2 separate regions of the Homo sapiens genome follow, and region 2 is linked to region 1. Evidence: fine-mapped expression QTL. A gene starts in region 1. The other region holds a variant in brackets. All regions are shown on one strand. Distances are between the middles of the regions. Region 1 holds the start of KCNK13 (potassium two pore domain channel subfamily K member 13). Region 2 overlaps KCNK13 (potassium two pore domain channel subfamily K member 13).

Region 1 (10,214 bases):
TAGCCGTTGCAGACAAGAGGGGGAAAAGATGATAAAGATCAGGAAGAAAAAAGCAAAACTTGTAGATGACATGATTATTTACAAAGAAACTCCTAAAGGAATCAACAAAACATGTACAACTGATGACTAAAGTAGCAAGGTTGAAGAATTCAAGTATTTTTGCAACAATCGTGTATTTTTATGGACTACAGCAAACAATTGAAAAGTAAAATTTTGAAATTCCATTTACAATAACATCAAAAGAATATAAAATACTTTAGAATGAATTTACAAGAGATGTGCAAAATCTCCATATGAAAACTTGGTTAAGAAACCCTAAATAAATAGAGGAATATACCTCTTTCATGAATTGTCAAGATGTTCTTCCCAAAATAGATCCAACACAATCCCAGAAATCAAGATCCCACAGCTTTTTGGAGGAAATTAAGCTGATTCTATGATTTTTTAGTGGAAGTGTAAAAGTTTTATAACATCCAAAGAATCTTGAAAAAGAAGAACAAAGTTAGAGGACTCAATTATAGTCCCACTAAAGACCTACTATAGAGCTATAAGTATGTAAATCCTGTGGTATTAGCATAAGGGTGGGCAAATAATGAACAAATTAAATTCCTGAAACTCAGGCATATTTATCTTTTCAACAAATAGCATTGGAATAACTGGAAATCCACCTGGACAAAATGACCTTTGACTCTTACCTCATACCATAAGGAAACAAACTTAAATGGATCGTAGACCCAAATATAAAAGTGTGGGGAGACAGAAAACCTATGCAACCTTGAAGGAGGTAATGATTTCTCAAAGGGCACCAAACATACAGAAAACATATTTAAGAAAATAAATAGGCAAATCAGAGTTAGAAAATATTTGCAAGATATGTATCTGAGAAAGTACTCGTATCCTGCATATATAAAGGATCTCTATAATTCAGTAACAGAGAAACTAATTTTTTAAGTGGGCAAAATATTTCAACAGAAAATTCACAAGAGAAGGTACACAAGTGGCCAGCAAGCGCATTAGACATCAGGGAAATGCAAATTAAAACCACAGTGAGATATCGCTACATCCACCAGTATTTTTAGACATCAGGGAAATGCAAATTAAAACCACAGTGAGATATTGCTACATCCACCAGTAGTTTTAAAATTAAAATGACTGATACTGCCAAATGTTGACAAAGATACGGAGCATCCAGAACTAGTGTACACTGTCAGTACAGCTGCTTTGGGAAAATGTCGGGCAGTTTCTCATAAAGCAAAATACATACCTACCCTATGACCCAGCAATTCCGCTCCTAGGTCTTTACGTAAGAGATATGAAAACATATGTCTACATAGTTGTACAAGAATGTTCCTAACAGTTTTATTTATGATGACCAAAATTTTCTAACAGTTCTCCTTTCTATCAATAGGAGGAGAATGAATAAACAAACTATGGTATACCCAAACAATGAAAAACTAGCAATAAAGAGGAAGGAATTACTAAGACATATAACATGGGTAAATCTCAAAAACATAATGTTTTCCACCAAAGAGTACATACCGGCATGATTCCATTTATATGGAGATTTAGAACAAAAAAACAGTTCTATAAAAGCGAAAGTAATCGATGGTAGAAAAATTCTGAACAGTGGTTTTCTCTGGAGGAATGTGGGTAGGGAGTTACAGGGAAGGGACTTAGGGGGACCCTGTTGGTGATGTTTGGCTGGTAGGTTGGATAGGTGATTTGCAGAGGTGTACCCATTTGTCAGAACTCACCTAATGATACACTTAAGATTTGTGCATTTCATTGTATGTAAATTTTATCCGAAAAGGAAAAAAATTCTGCAAGTAAATATTGAACCCTACGTAGTGATATGCAGGCAGAAGTACTGGGGATGAGGGCGGAAGTGTACCAAGCTCTGCAACTTACTCTGAAATGCATCCAAACAAGATGGGTTGATGGATGGACAGAGGGACGGGTAGATATCTAATAAATCAAGTATAGTAACATGTTAATTGTAGAATCTAGGTGGTGGGTATACGGGTGTTCACTGTAAAATTCAACTTTTTAGAATGTTTGAAATTTTTCATAATAAAATGGATTTAAAAGGTAATTGCAGTACTCACCCTGGGTGTATACACATGCACCCATTCTCGCGATGCCCCTAAAGCTCTTGCCCCTCAGAAGGCTAGATGAAAGAGGGGCATTGGGGAGTGAGTAACAGAGCCGAGAGGACTGCTAACAGCACCAGGGTTTCTGATGAAAATGCACTCGCCAGAGCTGTGTTTCTTTATTCGAAATCACACGGTTTTACTCAACAGGGCTCCTAGCCCTTCTGTCTCTGCTCCTGGTGCGTAAGGGCGGTGTGTGGGGCTCTGCGCCTGAAACCGCTCTCTCGGAAGGTGGGAAGATGCCCACGTATCCATTCCTCTCCGCGTACAGATTCGCTCCCACACGCCCGGGCGGGTGATTCCGGAGGGCCGCGCGGGGCTGTGTGCGCGGGCGGGGGCGGGATGTGTCTGGAGGGGGCAGAGCGCCCTCTCCCGGCCCCGGAGGGCCCACGCGGACCGGCTGAGCGTCCCACCAGCCGGTTCTGCATCCACTACCCAGATCTGCGCGCCCTGGTGGGAGCACCGCAGCCCCGGGTCGGCCCTTCGAACGCCGAGCGTCTACCCGCGGAGACCAGCGCAGGAGGCGGGCCCGCGCGCAAGGAGGCGGGCGACAGGGTGGAGTCGCCGCAGCTGGCAGCCGCACGGCTCTACCTGTTGCAGCGTCGGAGCGCGCCCGCCTGAGAAGGCAGAGCGCGGTGCGGACCTGTGCTCCGCGCGCCGGCTGGCAGGGCAGGGCCGCGGCTGCCAGGAGGCCCGGGAACAGTCCCGACGGAGCGGCGCGGAGAGGGCGCTCCCCGGAAGGTGAGATCTGAGCGCGGCAGCGGCGCCAGCGCCCGCTACAAGGCGGGGTCTCGGGGAGGGGGCCCCGGCGGTTTGCTGGAGAGCCTTGCTACTGTTCTGCATGAGGTGGGGGATGCCTTCTGCGCGGACCCCGCGTCCAGGCAAAACTCTGGAACGCACTAGGCAGCCAAGCCCGGGGGGAAGAGATGGAACGCTCCAAGGTCAAGGTCTCCTGGCCGCGGAGCCCTTCCAGCCCCCAGTGTTTGGCCTCCTCTCCGGAAGCGGGGCTGGCTCGCGGTGCGCGCTTGGTCCGGGCGGAGCCTACTAGTAGGCGCAGAGGACGCCCCCGCGCAGGATCCAGAGACCAAGGGCGCTCTGGCATGGTCAAGGCGAGGGAGGCTGCCCGGGGGAGAAGCCCCTAACTTCCTTTGCTCCCTGTTCCAACCTCCCTTTCTGGTCTCCTCTCTCCAGCCCGTCCGCCCAACGGATGCGCAGCGTTGGGGCCCGGCCGGAGGTCGGAGCCCTCGGACGCCGCAGCCCTCGGACGCCGCTCAGCACAGCCCCTCTCTCCGTGCGCCCGCCCTGGACCCCCTCCATCCCTAAGCCCCGGCAGCCGATTCGGAGACTCGGGAGGCCACAGGCTCAGCGCGACACCACGACCACAACTAGGAGGCACCATCGTCGATCTACCTGGGGAGGCACCTACAAAGCCAGCAGACTGACACCCGTGTCCTAGCCGTCGGCGGCCTGCGAAGCGATAGTCAAAGGAACCAGGACCCAGGACCCCGGCGCTCTGCTTACCCGCAGACCTCCGGACCGCGCCCCCCCCCCGCCGCCCCGCCCCGCCCCGCCCCGCCCCGCGACCGTCTCTTTGCGGGAAACTCGAGTTGGCTCGAGCTTGCCCTGAAGACGCGCCACGCCCCCTCCCCTATCTGAGCCGGACAGGGAGCCGGGGTGGAAACTGCGCCCGCATCCCAGCGCCAAGCAGACGTGAACTCTGCGCCCGTTCCCCGGGACCTTCAGCGTTAAGGAGAACTCCGAGGAGAGCAGGGGGAGTGGAGGGGAACGGCGGCGACAAAGCGGATTTGAAACTAGGAGTCAAGGAGGACGTGGGGAGCTGGCGCCACAGGAGCTACCGAGGCGGCGGCCGGGGGAGCCTCGCGGCCTGCGGGAGAGCCCGGCGGTCATGGGCGAGCCGGCGGTGGGGCGCCCGGGAGCTGGCTGAGCGCCGGGGCCCTTATTTCCCGGGGGTGTGGGCGAGACTCCGCCGACGCCCGGTGCCGTGGGCCTGGGGGCTGCCCCCGGGGGCCCGGCCATGGCTGGCCGGGGTTTCAGCTGGGGCCCGGGCCACCTGAACGAGGACAACGCGCGCTTTCTGCTGCTGGCCGCGCTCATCGTGCTCTACCTGCTGGGCGGCGCCGCCGTCTTCTCCGCGCTGGAGCTGGCGCACGAGCGCCAGGCCAAGCAGCGCTGGGAGGAGCGCCTGGCCAACTTCAGCCGCGGCCACAACCTGAGCCGCGACGAGCTGCGCGGCTTCCTCCGCCACTACGAGGAGGCCACTCGGGCCGGCATCCGCGTGGACAACGTCCGCCCGCGCTGGGACTTCACCGGCGCCTTCTACTTCGTGGGCACCGTCGTTTCCACCATAGGTAAGTGTGCTGGCCGGACTCGCTGACAACCTCCGGGCGGCCTCCACTTCCTCCGGGGGGCAGGACCGACCCTCTCATCCTTTCATTCATCCATCTGGGCGCCCAGCCAGACTCCACTGACATGAGCTGTCGCCTGATCAACAGGTGGTATTGCCTCCCCGCTGCTCTAATGTGGTCCAGGCACCGGCAGCTTCAGCGTCACCTGGCAGCTTGTTAGAAATGCAGTCTCAGTCCCCTCTGCAGACCTGCCGAGTCAGAATCTGCATGTTAACAAAGTCCCCAAAGGATTGGAATGATCCTTAAATTGGAGACGCTCTGCTCTGGGAGATTTTCAGTCTAATGAAGGAGACACGGCTTGAGTTCATGGGGAAGAAGGCTTTTACAGATAGGGACAGGAAACTAAACATTTACTGAGTCAGTCAGAGGGGAAGTGCAGATTTTAAAAGATTCTGCCCTCGACTTCACACTTACCGAGAAAAAATCAGAACAGCAGACTGAAAGTGAGGAAGCAAAAGTGCCAATGACGGTTCAAAAGATGGAAAATTTTCCACCAGGAAGAACCAGGGAAGTGACCTTTGGGCTGAATCAATTCGTGTTAGGCATAACTTGGGTTTGGGAACTGAAAGCGCGGTTGCACTCTAGAGTAGGAGAGAATCGCACTCAGGGGCCCCATGAGCTGGTTGGAGTGGTGGAAGGAAGACTAGGAAGGTCTGCTGGCTAATGGGATGGAGGCGGGGGTAGGACCTTCACTGACAGACTGAGGAGCTGGAATTTACCTAGAGGCACCTGGGAGCCATTGAGAATTTTTTAGCAAAGATGTAGCACAGCTACAATCAGCTGTGTTTATTTCCCAGCAGAAGGAAAATGATTTGGGGGAGTCTGCGCCACACCCCTAAAGATTGTTCATCCTTGAAGAATAATCAAGTGATTAATGGGGGTTAGGGAAGATGCTGTAGAAATAAATTCTGAGGGGGGCAAAAAGAGACCTGGAGCAGGGGAGGGAGGTTGGAAGAGTTAGACGGAGAGGAAGTGGCCTCCAAGCTGCAAAAAAGGCTGGCAGTTGCAAACAGCCCAGGGTGCATGTGCTGAGCGCTCTGTAGCTACTGCCCCTGTGCACTCTAGAAGAGCTCGCTGGTGAGGTGGGGCGACAAGTTGAGCCTCCTTGAGGCTCCCACACATGGCTGTGCTACATAGACATTCTGCCAGGAGAAGCAGCACAAAAGACAAAAGAGATTGGCTTCAGGTCAGATTCATCATGAAAGACTTCCCAGGGCTAGTCCAGGAATCCAGGGCTTCAGCTGATGCACAGGAGGCGAGGCAGAGGACCAGTATGATTAGGGACACACCGGCTGTATCTGAAGTGCCTGGCTCCCAGCCCCCATCCCATCCCAGATGGTGCGGCCCATCAGCAGGCCATGATGGCACCACCATAACTGGGTATCAGGCAGGAAACCTTGCAGCAGACCAGAATGGGCCCAAGATTGGTGAAGGAGGAATAACACCCCCATGGTTCTCCCCCTGAGCCCACACTATCTGCTGGACTCTTAGCCGTGTTCCACAAGCCCCTCCTCACATCACCTCCCACGTCCCAGAAGACAGTTCCAGAATCTCCACATAGGCAAGACTTGGGATGAACAAACTGATTAGGAGGTGTCACTTTGGAAGTGACCTTGACTCTACTGTGTTTGCATAGCAAGTACAGGATTTTTTTAGATTGAATGGTAACTTAGGGTGGTTTTGATGGGAGATTTGATGGCTGAATCTTTCCCACCACCATGAAAAACCATCTCTTGGTGCTCCCAGTGGGCACAGAGGCAGGAAGGAGCAGAGTGTGTGTGTGGACAGGTGCATCCATGTAGCAGGAACTGAGAGTGGCATGGGTAGGTGGCCATATAGGAACATGGGCTTTGGGGATACGAATATGACAATGTGGCATGGAGGAGTGGAAAGAAACCTGGACAAAGAGTCTGGAGTGGGAGCTTTTCATCCTGCCTCTGTATCTTGGGCAAGCCTCTTAACTATTCCGAGCCCCATCCTTTTCTCATCTGAGGCATCTACAGAGTGCCCACCTTGGTATCTGGCACATCAGCTATTTGGTGAATATTAGTCCTGCCCCCTGCTCCCTCCGTCTGCGTAAGCCTGCCCCTGTCACAGGGTTCTTGTGAGGGACAATGAGCTCTTGTAAGTGCGTGCGTGTTAAAAGGTAAAAAACATGATGTCAGTGTGGGCTGATTTTTATTTCTCATTTGTAACATTTCCTTTTAAATTGTTTCACTAATTGTTGTAATAACAGCACTGGCTAACCTTTATCAGGCCCGTATTAGGCACATACTGTATGATTATTATGTGAATGTGCAATGCAGCTCATTGCTGTGTGACATTCACACTTCATTTCAGCCAACACAACTCCATGAGGTAGGCATAACACTCCCCCGTTATAGATGAAAAAGCTGAAGGTTCAGGTTTTTTGTAAAATAAAGTATAAAGAAGAAAAAAATCAAGTTATATGCAGTAATATCATCCAAATTAACCACTGTTCATGTTTTGGTCCATTTTCTTCTGGTCTCCTTTTTCCTCTGCGTATACTTATATACATATGCATTTTTAAAAATTAGAATTATATTCTATAAACCACTCATATCTTGCATTTTTATTGTAACATTACATGATGGTGTTTTTCCTCTAAAAATTAATTCCACCATGCTTTATTCTGCAAAGACTTTGAGGTAGCAGACAAAGTATACAGGAAAATAATCATAAAATACAAATAAAACTTCAGAACCAGGGAAAAGAAGAACAGAAATACGGGATGCAAGTGGAGCTACGAAGTTGCTAGAGAGGAACTTTGTCTTAGTTTGGGTTCCCTTAGAAGCAGAGCTTGAGCCAAGAATTTGAGTGTAAGCAGTTTGTTGGGAGGAGCAAGGGATACAGGTCGGTGCAAGGGAAAGTGAATCGAGGAAGGAAAGTAAGTTAATCCAGGATACGCTATTAAGGCAGGTGCCACAGTGGGCAACTGGTACCTAATCCCAAATGGAAGCTTGGAAGCAAAGCAAAGCTCTTGACCCAGATATCCCATGCAAGAAAGCTGGGATGTTTACACAACCACACCTGTCAGGAATTGGTTAAAAAGCTGTCTGGGGAGGATGAGAAAGGAGCACGGGGATGTAATTTCCAGGTACTTCTGGCCTTATTTTCTTTCATGGACAGCCCAAGGGTAGCCCTCACGCAGAGATAGGCTCTGCTGTTGGAAATGAGGCCAGTGTGCCAGGAAATGATAACACGATCCCAAGGAATGGTGGGGAATCCCATGGAAGGCAGAGAACCAGCAAGCTTCAGATTTGGTTTCAGGCTTCATGGCAGACAGAGTCATGACCCATACTAGAATTCTTAATATCAGAAACGAGGAAACATAAACCTTTCCAGTACCTAATTCTCCTTTTTTGAGACAGAGTCTTGCCCTGTCACCTAGGCTTGAGTGCAGTGGCACAATCTTGGCTCACTGCAACCCCTGCCTCCCGGGTTCAAGCAGTTCTCCTGCCTCAGCTTCCCAAGTAGCTGGGATTACAGGTGTGCACCACCAGGCCCAGCTAATTTTTGTATTTTTTTTTTTTTTTTTAGTGGAGATGGGGTTTTGACATGTTGGCCAGGCTGGTCTGAAACTCTTGACCTCAAGTGATCCTCCTGTCTCAGCCTCCCAAAGTGCTGGGATTACAGGTGTGACCCACTTTTTATTTTTTTATTTTTTGAGGGAGTCTCAATTTGCCACCCAGGATGGAGTGCAGTGGCATGAGCTTGGTTCACTGCAACGTCCGTGCCTCCCAGGTGCAAGCAATTCTCCTGCCTTGGCCTCCCAAGTAGCTGGGATTACAGGTGCAAGCCACCACACCCAGCTAATTTTTGTATTTTTAGTAGAGAGAGGGCTACACCATGTTGATCAGGCTGGTCTTGAAATCCTGGTCTCAAGTGATCCGCCCACCTCAGCCTCCCAAAGTGCTGAGATTACAGGTGTGAGCCACTGCACCTGGCCCCAGTACCTAATTCTCAAAAGTATTTTCTCTTTGGGATTATATGTAGGAGACATTGTGTAGGACAACAGATGATATTCACAAACAATATTTTCCTGGAAAATGCTATTGAGGATTTCATGTAGCTGTGATCTAATTGAGACTTTTGACTTAAAAGTCAGAGCTTAGAGTGAAAAACAGTTTGCCAGTTTCTCTACAGGTTAAACATAGAACTACTTTATGACCCAGCAATTCCATTTCTAGGTATATATCCAAAAAAAAATCAAAAGTAGGGATTCAAACAGATATTTGTACGCCAGTGTTCATAGCAGCATTATTCACAATATCCAAACAACCCAAGTGCCCATCAACGGATGAATGAATTAACCAAATGTGGGCTACATACAATGGAATATGATTCAGCCAAAAAAAAAGGAATGAAATTGGCCAAGCACGGTGGCTCATGCCTGTAATCCCAACACTTTGGGAGGCCAAGGCAGGTGGATCACGAGGTCAGGAGTTCGAGACCAGCCTGGCCAATATGGTGAAACCCTGTCTCTACTAAAAATAAACAAATTAGCTGGGTGTGGTGGCCTGTGCCTGTAGTCCCAGCTACTTGGGAGGCTGAGGCAGGAGAATTGCTGGAACCTGGGAGGCAGAGGTTGCAGTGAGCTGAGATCGCGCCAATGCACTCCAGCCTGGGTGACAGAGTGAGACCATCTCAAGAAAAAAACGAAAAGGAATGAAATTTTGATATATGCTGTAACATAGATGGACCTTGAAAATAATTATGCTTAGTAAAATAAGCCAGACACAGAAGGACAAATATCATATGATTCCATTTATATGAGGTACTTAGAATAGGCAAATTCATAGAGATAAATTAAAATACAGGTTACCAGGGGCTGAGGGACGGCCAGAAGTGGGAGTTATTGTTTAATGGGTACTTTCAGTTTGGGATACTGAAAACATTTTGGGTATAGATAGTGGTGATGGTTGTACAACATTGCAATTATATTTAATGCTATTGAATTGTACACTTTTAAATGGTTAAAATGATAAATATGTTAAGTATATTTGACTGCAGTAAAGAAAACCTCAGGGCAGAGTATTAAAACACAATTCAGAAATGTTGATTCTGAAAAAGGCTGGAGATCAGACGTGAAACAGGGATAAACTTAAAGTACTCAGAAAAGTAGAATGACAGTATGTCTTGTAAATGATCTTCTGTGAATATCTTTTCTCTGAAACTAGCTTTTGTTAGGAGCTTGTCCCCGTGTTTGCTGGTATATCTGTAGGTAGCTTCTGTCCCCAAAGGGTTTGAGGTACTCTGCATTTGACAGAGTCGGGGAAGGCTTAGGTTTTGCTGCAGTAACAAGCTACTCCCAAAATCTCAGTAGCTTAATGTAATAAAAGTGTACTTCTTACCCACACCAAGTTCACTGTGGGTGCTGGTGATGCTGCCGGGCGGTTGTCTCTGTGTTGCCCCAGCGCTTCAGGCCTCTTCTGTCTCTTGGCTCCTCTTCCTCAGCACATGCTTCCAGGATTGCTCTAGAAGGGGAAGAAAGGGCTGAAGAGTCAAGCACCAATGATTAAATGGCCACCACCACCTGCAAGTAGCACAGGTCCCCTCCACTCCCACATCCTTGGCCAAATCAAGTCACAGAACCACCACTCCCTACTTCAAAGGG
Region 2 (10,609 bases), 23 kb after region 1:
TTGTGAGTGCGTGGTCCTCTCTCCCCAAACTTTAACTTCAATTATTAACTGCAAGGTGGGTTTTCTTTTTAAAAATACTTTTTCCATTAAAAAATTCTTAATATGTATGCATTTGGATGCATTTTCAAATCATTTCAAAGTATTTAAAGTAAAAAACCAGTCTCCCTTTGCTCCCCCATCCTACTCTCCGGAAATAACCAACTCCAAGAGTTGGATGTGGATCTTTCCAGAATTGTTTTCTCATCCACAAACATGTAAGCCCAAGCACACACACATGAGGTCCTTCACACATATATGTGGTTCTTTATGTAGTTTTTGCAAATTCATTTTTTACACCTACTGATGGTTCTTCTTTAACAGCTTTATCAATGTATAATTCACATACCATAAAATTCATCTATTTAAGGTATACAATTCTGTGGTTTTTAGCATATTTACAGAGTTTTGCAACCATCATCACCATCAATTTTAGGACATTTCAAGTTCTGAAAAAAGAAACCTCATACCCTTTAGCGTTTGCCCCCTGTTATGGTTTGAATATGGTTTGTCCCCACGATAACTCATGTTGAGGCTTGGTCCCAGTGTGGCAGTGTTGGGAGGTGGCGCCTTGAAGGAATGATGAGGACATTAAGATCCATTAATGTCTTTCTCTCCAGACTGGGTTGGTTCTCTCAGGAATGGATTAGTTCCAGTGAGAGTGGATTGTTATAAAGGGAGGTTGCCTCTCATATTTTGCCTGTTTTCCTTTCCATTTCTCCACCATATTTTGATGCAGTGTGAAGCTCTTGCCAGAAGCCACTAGATTCAGTTGCTCAATCTTGAACTTCCCAGCCTGCAAAACCATGAGCTAAATAAACCTGTTTTCTTTTTCAAAACAGAGTCTCACTTTGTTGCCCGAGCTGGAGTGCAGTGGCATGATCTCAGCTCACTGCAACCTCTGCTTCCTGCGCTTAAGTGATTCTCCTGCCTCAGCCTCCCCAGTAGCTGGGACTATAGGCATATGCCACCACACCCAGCTAATTTTTTTTTTTTTTTTAGTAGAGACAGGGTTTTGTCATGTTGGCCAGGCTGGTCTTGAACTCCTGACCTCAGATGATCTGCCTATGTCGGCCTCCCAAAGTGCTAGGATTACAGGCATGAGCCACCGTGCCTGGCCTCCTCTTTTCTTTATTAATTATCTGGTCTCAGGTATTGTGTTACCTGAGCAACACATAATGAACTAAGACACTATCCCCTCCAGCCTTAGGCAACCAATAATCTACTTTCTATTTCTATAGATCTGCCTATTCTGGACATTTCATATAAATGGAATCATACAACATGTGGGCTTTTGTGACTGACTTCTTTCACTTAGCATGTTTTCAAGTGAGCCAAGTTGTAGCATGTATTAGTACTTCTCTCCTTTTTGTTGCCAGATAATATTCTGCTACATGAATGTACCACATTTTATTTATCAGTTAATCAGTTGATGGACATTTACATTGTTTCCACTTTTTAGCTACTATGAATAATACCATACAATGTCGAATAAGTTTATAAAAACGTATGTCCACAGAACACAAGTTTTCTGTGTGGACATATGTTTTCATTTCTCTTGAGCATGTAGGTTTGGAATTGCTAGGTCATGTAGTAACCCTATTCTTTATCTTTGGACAAACTTCCAAAATGGCTATAACATTGTATATTCCCACCGACAGTGTACAAGGGTTCCAATTTCTCCACACCCTTTCCAACACTTTACTATCTCTCTTTGGATGTGAAATAGTATAATATTGTGGTTTTGATTTGCATTTCTTTAATGACAAATGATACTGAGCATTTTTGTGTGTTTATTGGCCATTTGTATACTATCTTAAAAGAAAGATCTGTTCAGATTCTTTGCCCATCTTTTAATTGGGTTATTTGTCCTTTTATTACTGAGTTATGAAAGTGCTTTATATATTCTAGGTTCAAGTCCATTAACTGATATATGATTTGCAAATATTTCCCCCTTCTGTGGGTGTCTTTTCACTATCTTCTTGATGTTCTTTGAAGCACCAAAGCTTTAAATTTTGATAAAGTCCAATTTATTGGATAGAGTTCTATTTTTCCTTTTGTTGCTTATGCTTTTAGTGTCATATTGTAAGAAACCATTACCTAATCTAAGGTCATGAAGATTTATACTTATGTTTTCTTCTAAGAGTTTTATAGTTTCACTCTTACATTCAGGTTGTTGATCCATTTTGAGTTAATTTTTGTGCATGGTATGAAACATGGGTCTGCTGTGGTTTCAGTGTTTGTTTCCTCCACAACTCACATGGAAATTTAATTGCCATTATAACAATATAAAGAGGTGGGACCTTTAAGAGGTGATTAGGTGATGAGGGCTCTGCCCACTTGGATGGGATTAATTGTGTTATAAAAGGGCATGTTTGGCCTCCTTCTCTCTCTCCTTGCCTTTCCACGATGTGATGTATTCCCTCCTGTGATGACAGCAAGAAGACCCTTTCAAACTGTCAGTGTCTTGATCTTGGACTTTGAAGCCTCAAAATTCTAAGAAGTAAATTTCTGTTCTTTGTAAATTGCCCAGTCTGCGGTATTTTGTTATAACACCACAGAATGGACTAAGACAGGATCCAACTTAATTCTTTTGCATGTGGATATCCAGTTGTTCCAGCATCATTTGTTGAAAAGACTAGTCTTAGCCCCATTTAATTGTTTTAGCACACTTGACAAAAATCACTAGTCTTAGCCCCATTTAATTGTTTTAGCACACTTGACAAAAATCAATTAACCATAAACATGAAATTGACATCTGGACTCTCAATTCTATTCCATTGACCTATCTGTCTGTCCTTATTCTAGTGTCTTGATTACTGTGGCTTTGTAGTAAATTTTGAAATCAGGAAGTGTGAGTCCTCCAATGTTGTTGGTTTTTTTTCCCCCAAGATTGTTTTGGCTATTCTGGGTCCCTTGAACTTCATGTGAATTTTAACATCAGTTTATCAATTACTGCAAAGAAGACTTACATTGAATTAATTTGGGGAATTTTGCCATCTTAACAATATTAAGTGTTCCAATCTATGAACATGGGATGTCTTTCCATTTATTTTGATCCTTTAATTTATTTAAACAATGTTTTATAGTTTTTTGGAGCATAAGTTTTGGACTTTAAAAAAATTTCTTAAGTCATTCATTATTTTAATCCTATTGCAAATGAAATGGTTTTCTTGATTTTATTTTGAATTGTTTATTGCAAGTGTGTAGAAATGGAATTAGTTTTTGCATGTTGGTCTTGTATCCTGTGGCCTTGCTACGCTAATGTATTAACTCTAAAAATTTTCAGTCAGTTCCTTAGGATTTTCTATATACATGAATATGTCACCTGTGTGTCCAGATAGTTTTAGTTCTTTCTTTCCCATCTGGATTTCTTTTATTTCCTTTATTTCATGCTTGACTAGAACTCCCACTGCAATGTCGAATAGAGATGATAAGAGTGGGCCTCTTTATCTTATTCCTGATCTTGAAGGAAAGTTTCAGTCTTTCACTATTGAGTATGAAATTGGTTTTGTAGATGGCCTTTACCAGGTTGAGAAAGATCCCTTCTATTTCTAGTGTGTTGAATGTTTTTATCACAAAGAGCTGTTAGATTTTTGCCAAATTCTTTTTCCACATCTATTGAGATGATCATGTGGTTTTATTTTTTATGCTATTTATATAATGTTTTGCATTGATTTTTGTTTTTTATTATTATTCATTTATTTATTTATTTTGAGATGGAGTTTCACTCTGTCCCCCAGGCTGAAGTGCAGTGGCGTGATCTTGGCTCACTGCAACCTCTGCCTCCCAGGTTCAAGCGATTCTTGTGCCTCAGCTTCTGGAGTAGCTGAGATTACAGGCGTGTGCCACGACGCCCAGCTAATTTTTTGTATTTTTAGTAGAGATGGGGTTTCACCATGTTGGCCAGGCTGGTCTTGAACTCCTGACCTCAAGCAATCCACCCACTTTGGCCTCCCCAAAGTGCTAGGATTACAGGTGTGAGCCACTGTGCCCAGCCTAATTTTCGGATATTAAATCAATCTTGAGATAAGTCCTACTTGATTATGGTGTATAATTTTTTTAATATGTTGCTGCATTTGGTTTGCTAGTATTTTGTTTAGGATTTTTGCATCAGTATTCAAAAGAAATAGGCCGGGCATAGTGGCTTATTCCTGTAATACTAGCACTTTGGGAGGCCGAGGCGAGTGGATCACCTGAGGTCAGGAGTTTGAGGCCAATCTGGCCAACATGGCGAAACCCTGTCTCTACTAAAAATACAAAAATTAGCCGGGCATGGTGGCACATGCCTATACTCCCAGCTACTCAGGAGTCTGAAGCAGGAGAATCATTTGAACCCGGGAGGCGGAGGTTGCAGTGAGCTGAGATCCATGCCATTGCACTCCAGCCTGGGTGACAGAGTGAGACTCTGTCTCAAAAAAAAATATATATATATATTTTATTTATGTATATAAATTTATATATTATATATACTTATATATAATATATATATACTTATATAATTATATATTATATATTATATAAATTATATATATTATATATTATATACTTTATATTATATATTATATTATATATTATATATTATATATTATATAGATATTATATAAATATATAATATATAAATTTATATCTATCTATCTACCTTTTTCCTTTTCTTGTGCCCTTTTTCCTTTTCTTATGCCCTTTGTCTTGTTTTGGTATCAGGATAATACTATAGATCTATAGAATTAGTTGGGGCATGTTCATTCGTAGTTCTTGTATCTTTGTGAGGTTGCCCAGGATACTTAACTATGATATGGATATTCATTAATTTAACCATTCTTCCTATTGTAAGACATAGGTTATTGCTAATTATTTGCTAGCACAACTGCTTTATACACCATATTTTCACTGTAGTATTTAAATTTTAAATATTTTATAGGTACTGCCAAGTTTTGGAGAATTTTTAAATTTAAATATTGTCAGCTAATTTGCAATAATCTTATTCTCACTGCTAACATATACTATATTTTTCCTCTCCTGTGGTACTATACAAAGAGCTCTACATAGATAAACTTTCATCCTATGGGGTAGGACTATTATTTTCCCCCATTCTATAGGTGAGAAAACTGAAGCACAGAGGTTACATAGCTTGCCCAAAGCCACACAGCTAGTAGGTGGTAAAACTTTGTTTCAAACTTTGTTCAGCCATGATTTAAACTGGGAGAAGTGGTGGGTAGCCTCCAAGATAGTCAAAATTCTAGTGAAAACTGAAATAAAACCTATGGCCCCGGTTCAGTATTTCTTTTTGTCATCAGTGGATGTTTTTGTGTTTTATTTGATGTTACTGATGAATATATTTTGCAGGCTATTGCTTTGAAGAAACAGGGCTGCCAGGTTGTATACTAAGGAAGACGTCTGGGGGTCCCATGCTTGGTTTGAATGGTGTCTTTCTTCCCTGCTTATCTCCTTAGAACCACACCCAGCACTCATCCCATATCAAATGTAAACCTCAGTTTGGTTCAGTCAGAATTTATTGAGTTCTTACTATTGGCCCAACCTGACTGCAGGAGTTCTTAAGCCGGGCCCATGAATAGAATTCAGAGCATCTATAAATGTAGATGGTAAAATAATTCCATCTTTATATTTACTGGCATCCAACTAACCCCTGAGGGACTAACCTTGAGCATATCTTCCAATGATGAATGATGAATGTAGGTAACAACCCTGACATAGGATGAGCAGGGCCTGTAGCTTTGGCACCAGTGAAATCACAGATCCATTCCCTCCACCTGATAGTCAGGGCAGATCCCTTATCCTTCACCCTCACCACTACCTTAAAATCATGGTGGTTATTAGCCTTAATTTTATTATTTCATTTTATATATATATACATATATATATACATATATATATATATATATATATATATTTTTTTTTTTTATTGAGATGGGGCCTCACTATGTTGCCCAGGCTGGTCTCAAACTCCTGGGCTGAAGCAATCTGCCTGCCTCAGCCTTTCAAAGTGCTGGGATTACAGGCAAGAGCCACTTGCCCAGGCCATTATTTCGTGGTTTAATAACAAAGCACATTTAATGTGTCGCACATTTATTTCATTGTTTAGTAACTGTGTTTTAATACAGCTGCTTTTGTAATTTTATACATTTTATTTCATTCATTAAAAATAAATTATTCTAAGAAGGGACCAATACACTTCCCCAGACTGCCAAAGGCTCC[G/A]GGTAGCAGAAAACAGGAATTGAGAACCAGACCAAGGTTAGGCTAGTTTTGAATGAAGAGAAAAAGGGAACCTGCCACTGCCTCCATCCCCGCTTCTCATGATAGAGCATTCATCCACTTGTAGTTGTTTGAAAACGGACTTGCAACACTCTCGTTGCTCAATCACTGCGCAGCATAATCTCAGCTCTTTGTGATGATTCAGAAGCCATTTCAGGATGTTGCCAGGTGCTGAGGGTCATCATTGGCAGCATAATTTACCACAGTCCCTTAGAGCAGTGGGGGAAGAAGCAAGCATTTGGAAATGTCCTATTTATAGAGTACCCTTTGTACAGTGTAGGGGACTTTGTTCAGAGTTCCCGCCCTGCTCCCTTGTCTCTGCCTTCTCAGCTAGTGATGATGTCCTTCTGGTGCTTAGCCCACCACCTACCCTGTGGTTTCAGCATGCCATGTATACTTGGCTGTAAATGCTGATTTTGGAATATATAATATTGCTTCTTGGTGATTCAATGCTACTTCTTGCTTAAGTTTATTTATTTATTTATTTTTATTTTTTAATTTTTGAGACAGAGTCTCGCTCTATCACCCAGGCTGGAGTGCAGTGGTGTGATCTCAGCTCACTGCAACCTCCACCTCCTGGGTTTAAGCGGTTCTTACACCTCAGCCTCCCGGGTAACTGGGATTACAGGTGTGTGCCACCATGCCTGGCTAATTTTTGTATTTGTAGTAGAGACAGGGTTTCACCATGTTGCCCAGGCTGGCTTCTTGCTTAAGTTTAAATTAGAAATTGCCACTGGCCTTGGACCAAAGGCAACATGCTTTATTAGGTCCACAGATGTTGATGAGTTGGTAAATGTTTAACAACAAGCTTAAAAAGAAAGAAAGAAAGAAAGAAAGCTCTGATTCATAGCATTTGCCTATTTCTGTGGTGTAAATATTCCCACAATGGCTGGTTTCAAGCCATAAAAGTGAAGTTCCCGAAGGCAGAAGGCAGAATAGAGAAGAGATGTGCACAGTCAGCTCTCAGGCGCCTTTCCCAGCCAGCTCCACCTCACTGCTGTGGACCTCAGAGTGCTTGAGAAAACCTGAATTCACTGTCAACTTTTTAACATCAGATTTCCCAGTCGAAATATAGATTTCTGATTTCTCTTGGGAAAATGGAAAATCTGGCAATGTCAGGCCCACATTCCTCTGTGCCAGCCATTCACTGAAGATGAGCTACAGATGATCCCTTTGGGGAGTGATATGGTTTGGCTCTTACCCCACCCAAATCTCATCTTGAATTGTAACTCCCACAATTCCCACGTGTCATGGGAGGAACCTGATGGGAGGTTATTGAATTATGGGGTTGAGTCTTTCCTGTGCTATTCTCATGATAGAGAATGAGTCTCATGAGATCTGATGGTTTCAGAAACAGGAGTTTCCCTGCATGAGCTCTCTTTGCTTGCCACCATCCATGTAAGACTTGACTTCTCCTCCTTGTCTTCTGCCATGATTGTAAGGCCCCCCAGCCATGTGGAACGTAAGTCCATTAAACCTTTTTTTCTTCCCAGTCTCGGATATGTCTTTATCAGCAGCATGAAAACAGACTAATAGAGTAAATTGATACCAGTAGAGTGGGGCATTGCTGAAAAGATACTTGAAAATGTGGAAACAACCTTGGAACTGGGTAACAGGCAGAGACTGGAACAGTTTGGAGGGCTCAGAAAAAGACAGGAAAATGTGGGAAAGTTTGGAACTTCCTAGAGACTTGTTGAATAGCTTGGACAAAAATGCTGATAGTGATATGAACGATAAGGTTCAGGCTGAGGTGGTCTCAGACAAAGATGAAGAACTTGTTGGGAACTGGAGCAAAGATGACTCTGGTTATGTTCAGCAAAGAGACTCAAGGCATTTTGCCCCTGCCCTAGAGATTTGTGAAACTTTGAACTTGAGAGAGATGATGTAGGGTGTTTGGCAAAAGAAATCTCTAAGCAGCAAGGCATTCAAGAGGTGCTATTGAAGGTGCTGTTAAAGGCATTCAGTTTTATAAGGGAAATAGAGCATAAAGTTTGGAAAATTTGCAGCCTGACAATATGATAGAAAAGAAAATCCCATCTTCCGAGGAGAAATTCAAGCTGGCTGCAGAAATTTGCATAAGTAACGAGGAGCCAAATGTTAATCCCGAAGACAATGGGGAAAATATCTCCAGGGCATGTCAGAGGTTTTCACAGTAGCCCCTCCCATCACAGGCCCGGAGGCCTAGGAAAATAATGGCTTTGTGGGCCAGGCCCAGGGTCCCCGTGCTGTGTGCAGTCTAGGGATTTGGTGTCCTGTGTCCCAGACAATCCAGCCATGACTAAAAGGGGCCAAGGTACAGCTCAGGCTGTGGCTTCAGAGGGTGCAAGCCCCAAGCCTTGGTAGCTTCCGTGTGGTGTTGAGCCTGCAGGTGCACAGAAGTCAAGAATTGAGGTTTGGGAACTTCTGCCTAGATTTCCGAGGATGGTGGAAATGCCTGGATGTCCAGGTGGAAGTTTGCTTGAAGGGGCGGGGCTCTCATGGAGAACCTCTGCTAGGGCAGTGTGGAAGTGTGGGGTTGTAGCCCCAACAAAGAGTCCCTACTGGGGGCCCCTACTGGGGCACCACATAGCAGAGCTGTAAGAAGAAAGCCACTATCCTCCAGACCCCAGAATGGTCAATCCACCGACCGCTTGCACCATGTGCCTGGAAAAGCCAGACAATACCAGCCATGAAAGCAGCCGGGAGGGAGGCTGTGTCCTGCAAAGCCACAGGGGCAGAGCTGCCCAAGACCATGGGAACCCACCTCTTGCATCAGCATGACCTGGATGTGAGACATGGAGTCAAAGGAGATAATTTTGGAGCTCTAAGATTGGACTGCCCTGCTGGATTTCAGACTTGCATGGGGCCTGTAACCCCTTTATTTTGGCCAGTTTCTCCCATTTGGAGTGGGTATACCCAATGCCTGAACCCCCATTGTATTTAGGAAGTAACTAACTTGCTTTTGATTTTACAGGCTTATAGGCAGAAGGGCCTTGCCTTGTCTCCAATGAGATGTTGGACTGTAGACTTTTGAGTTAATGCTGAAATGAGTTAAGATTCTGGGGGACTGTTGGCAAGGCATGATTGGTTTTGAAATGTGAGGACATGATATTTGAGAGGGGCCAGGGCAGAATGATATGGTTTGGCTGTGTCCCCACCCAAATCTCATCTCGAATTGTAACTCTCACAATTCCCACGTGTCATGAGAGGAACCCAGTGGGAGGTAATTGAATCATGGAGGTGGGTTTTCCCATGCTATTCTCGTGATAGTGAATGTGTCTCATGAGATCTGGTGGTTTTAAAAACAGGAGTTTCCCTTCACAAGCTCTCTTTGCCTGCCGCCATCCATGTAAGGCATGACTTGCTCCTCCTTGCCCTCTGCCATGACTGTGAGGCCTTCCCAGCCATGTGGAACTATAAGTCCATTAAACCTCTTTTTTGCCAGTCTCGGGTACCTTTATCAGCAGCATGAAAACAGAATAATACAGGGAGCTCAGTGCTTCTTCTGGTCCCACCTGCCTAGGCTGAGTGTCACCTGCCATTCATCTCTATGTTTGACCTCTTTCCTGTCCCTTGGCTCAAGTGCCGAGGTTCCTCTTGTCTCTGAGATATGTGAACCAAGTGATCTTATCACCTAGATTTTTAATCAGAATCTCAAGAAAGAGTTAGAGGGCCCCACATGATATTATTTTTTTAAATTGCATCCAGTTTGATCATGGAGCAGTCAAGGTTTTCCTGATGGGGTGCATGGAGATTTTATTCCATTCTTGTTGATTTCCCTCTGGGTGTCCCAATCAGTAGGCGCAAGAGCTTTTCCACTTAGGATATTTAATTAATGAGAATCGAACCGGTAAAGAATGAACTCTATGGCTGGCTAAAGGTTTTCCTATGGGAAATTAAGACCCACTAACTGGAAATGGTGAAAAGTGACAAGTTCAGAGGAAACTCAGTACAGTCATTAAAAATGTATCAAGTCCTATACAGTAGCCAGTTGACACAGCACAGTCAAAGAAAAATAGCATCTCTAAGGTCTTGTTGGATACCATCCATGTTGATTTTGGATAATGCCCAAAAGCCTGTTTCTGGGGGAAAGGCTGCTCTTAAACCTGGAATGCAGAACACTGGGCATGCCAAATGCCTCATTATTTATGAGTTCCATGCAGACAGTGATGCATGAAGGGTAAAAGACATGCCAATACCCTCTTCTCGGTGGGGTAGAGTGCTCCTGAAGATGATTTAGGAAGTGAGGTTTGAAACAGAGTCTATGGAGAGAGTCCTGGAGTTACCAGTGCTGGCAGGGGAGAAGGAGAAGACCATCAGA

What was found.
Region 2: its variant is fine-mapped to the expression of KCNK13 in blood mononuclear cells (TOPMed, PIP above 0.99). The same link has a PIP of 0.9 or more in monocytes, monocytes after LPS, monocytes after R848, tibial nerve and whole blood.

What each region holds. Positions count from the first base shown.
Region 1 is chr14:90,058,021-90,068,234 of GRCh38, forward strand. It overlaps KCNK13 (potassium two pore domain channel subfamily K member 13), which reads left to right and starts at 3,974. Exons shown (of 2, transcript NM_022054.4): 1 at 3,974-4,519. The coding sequence starts at 4,186. It overlaps LOC124903406, which reads left to right. Exons shown (of 3, transcript XM_047432048.1): 2 at 2,382-2,891; 3 at 3,342-3,713. The coding sequence ends at 3,606. RefSeq lists a silencer at 2,277-2,666 and enhancers at 2,915-3,416, 3,417-3,916.
Region 2 is chr14:90,081,209-90,091,817 of GRCh38, forward strand. All of the region lies in intron 1 of KCNK13 (potassium two pore domain channel subfamily K member 13), which reads left to right. Among named protein-coding and RNA genes, the nearest start is that of KCNK13, 25 kb to the left of the region's middle. RefSeq lists an enhancer at 8,214-8,714. The variant G/A (reference allele first, on the strand shown) is at 6,253.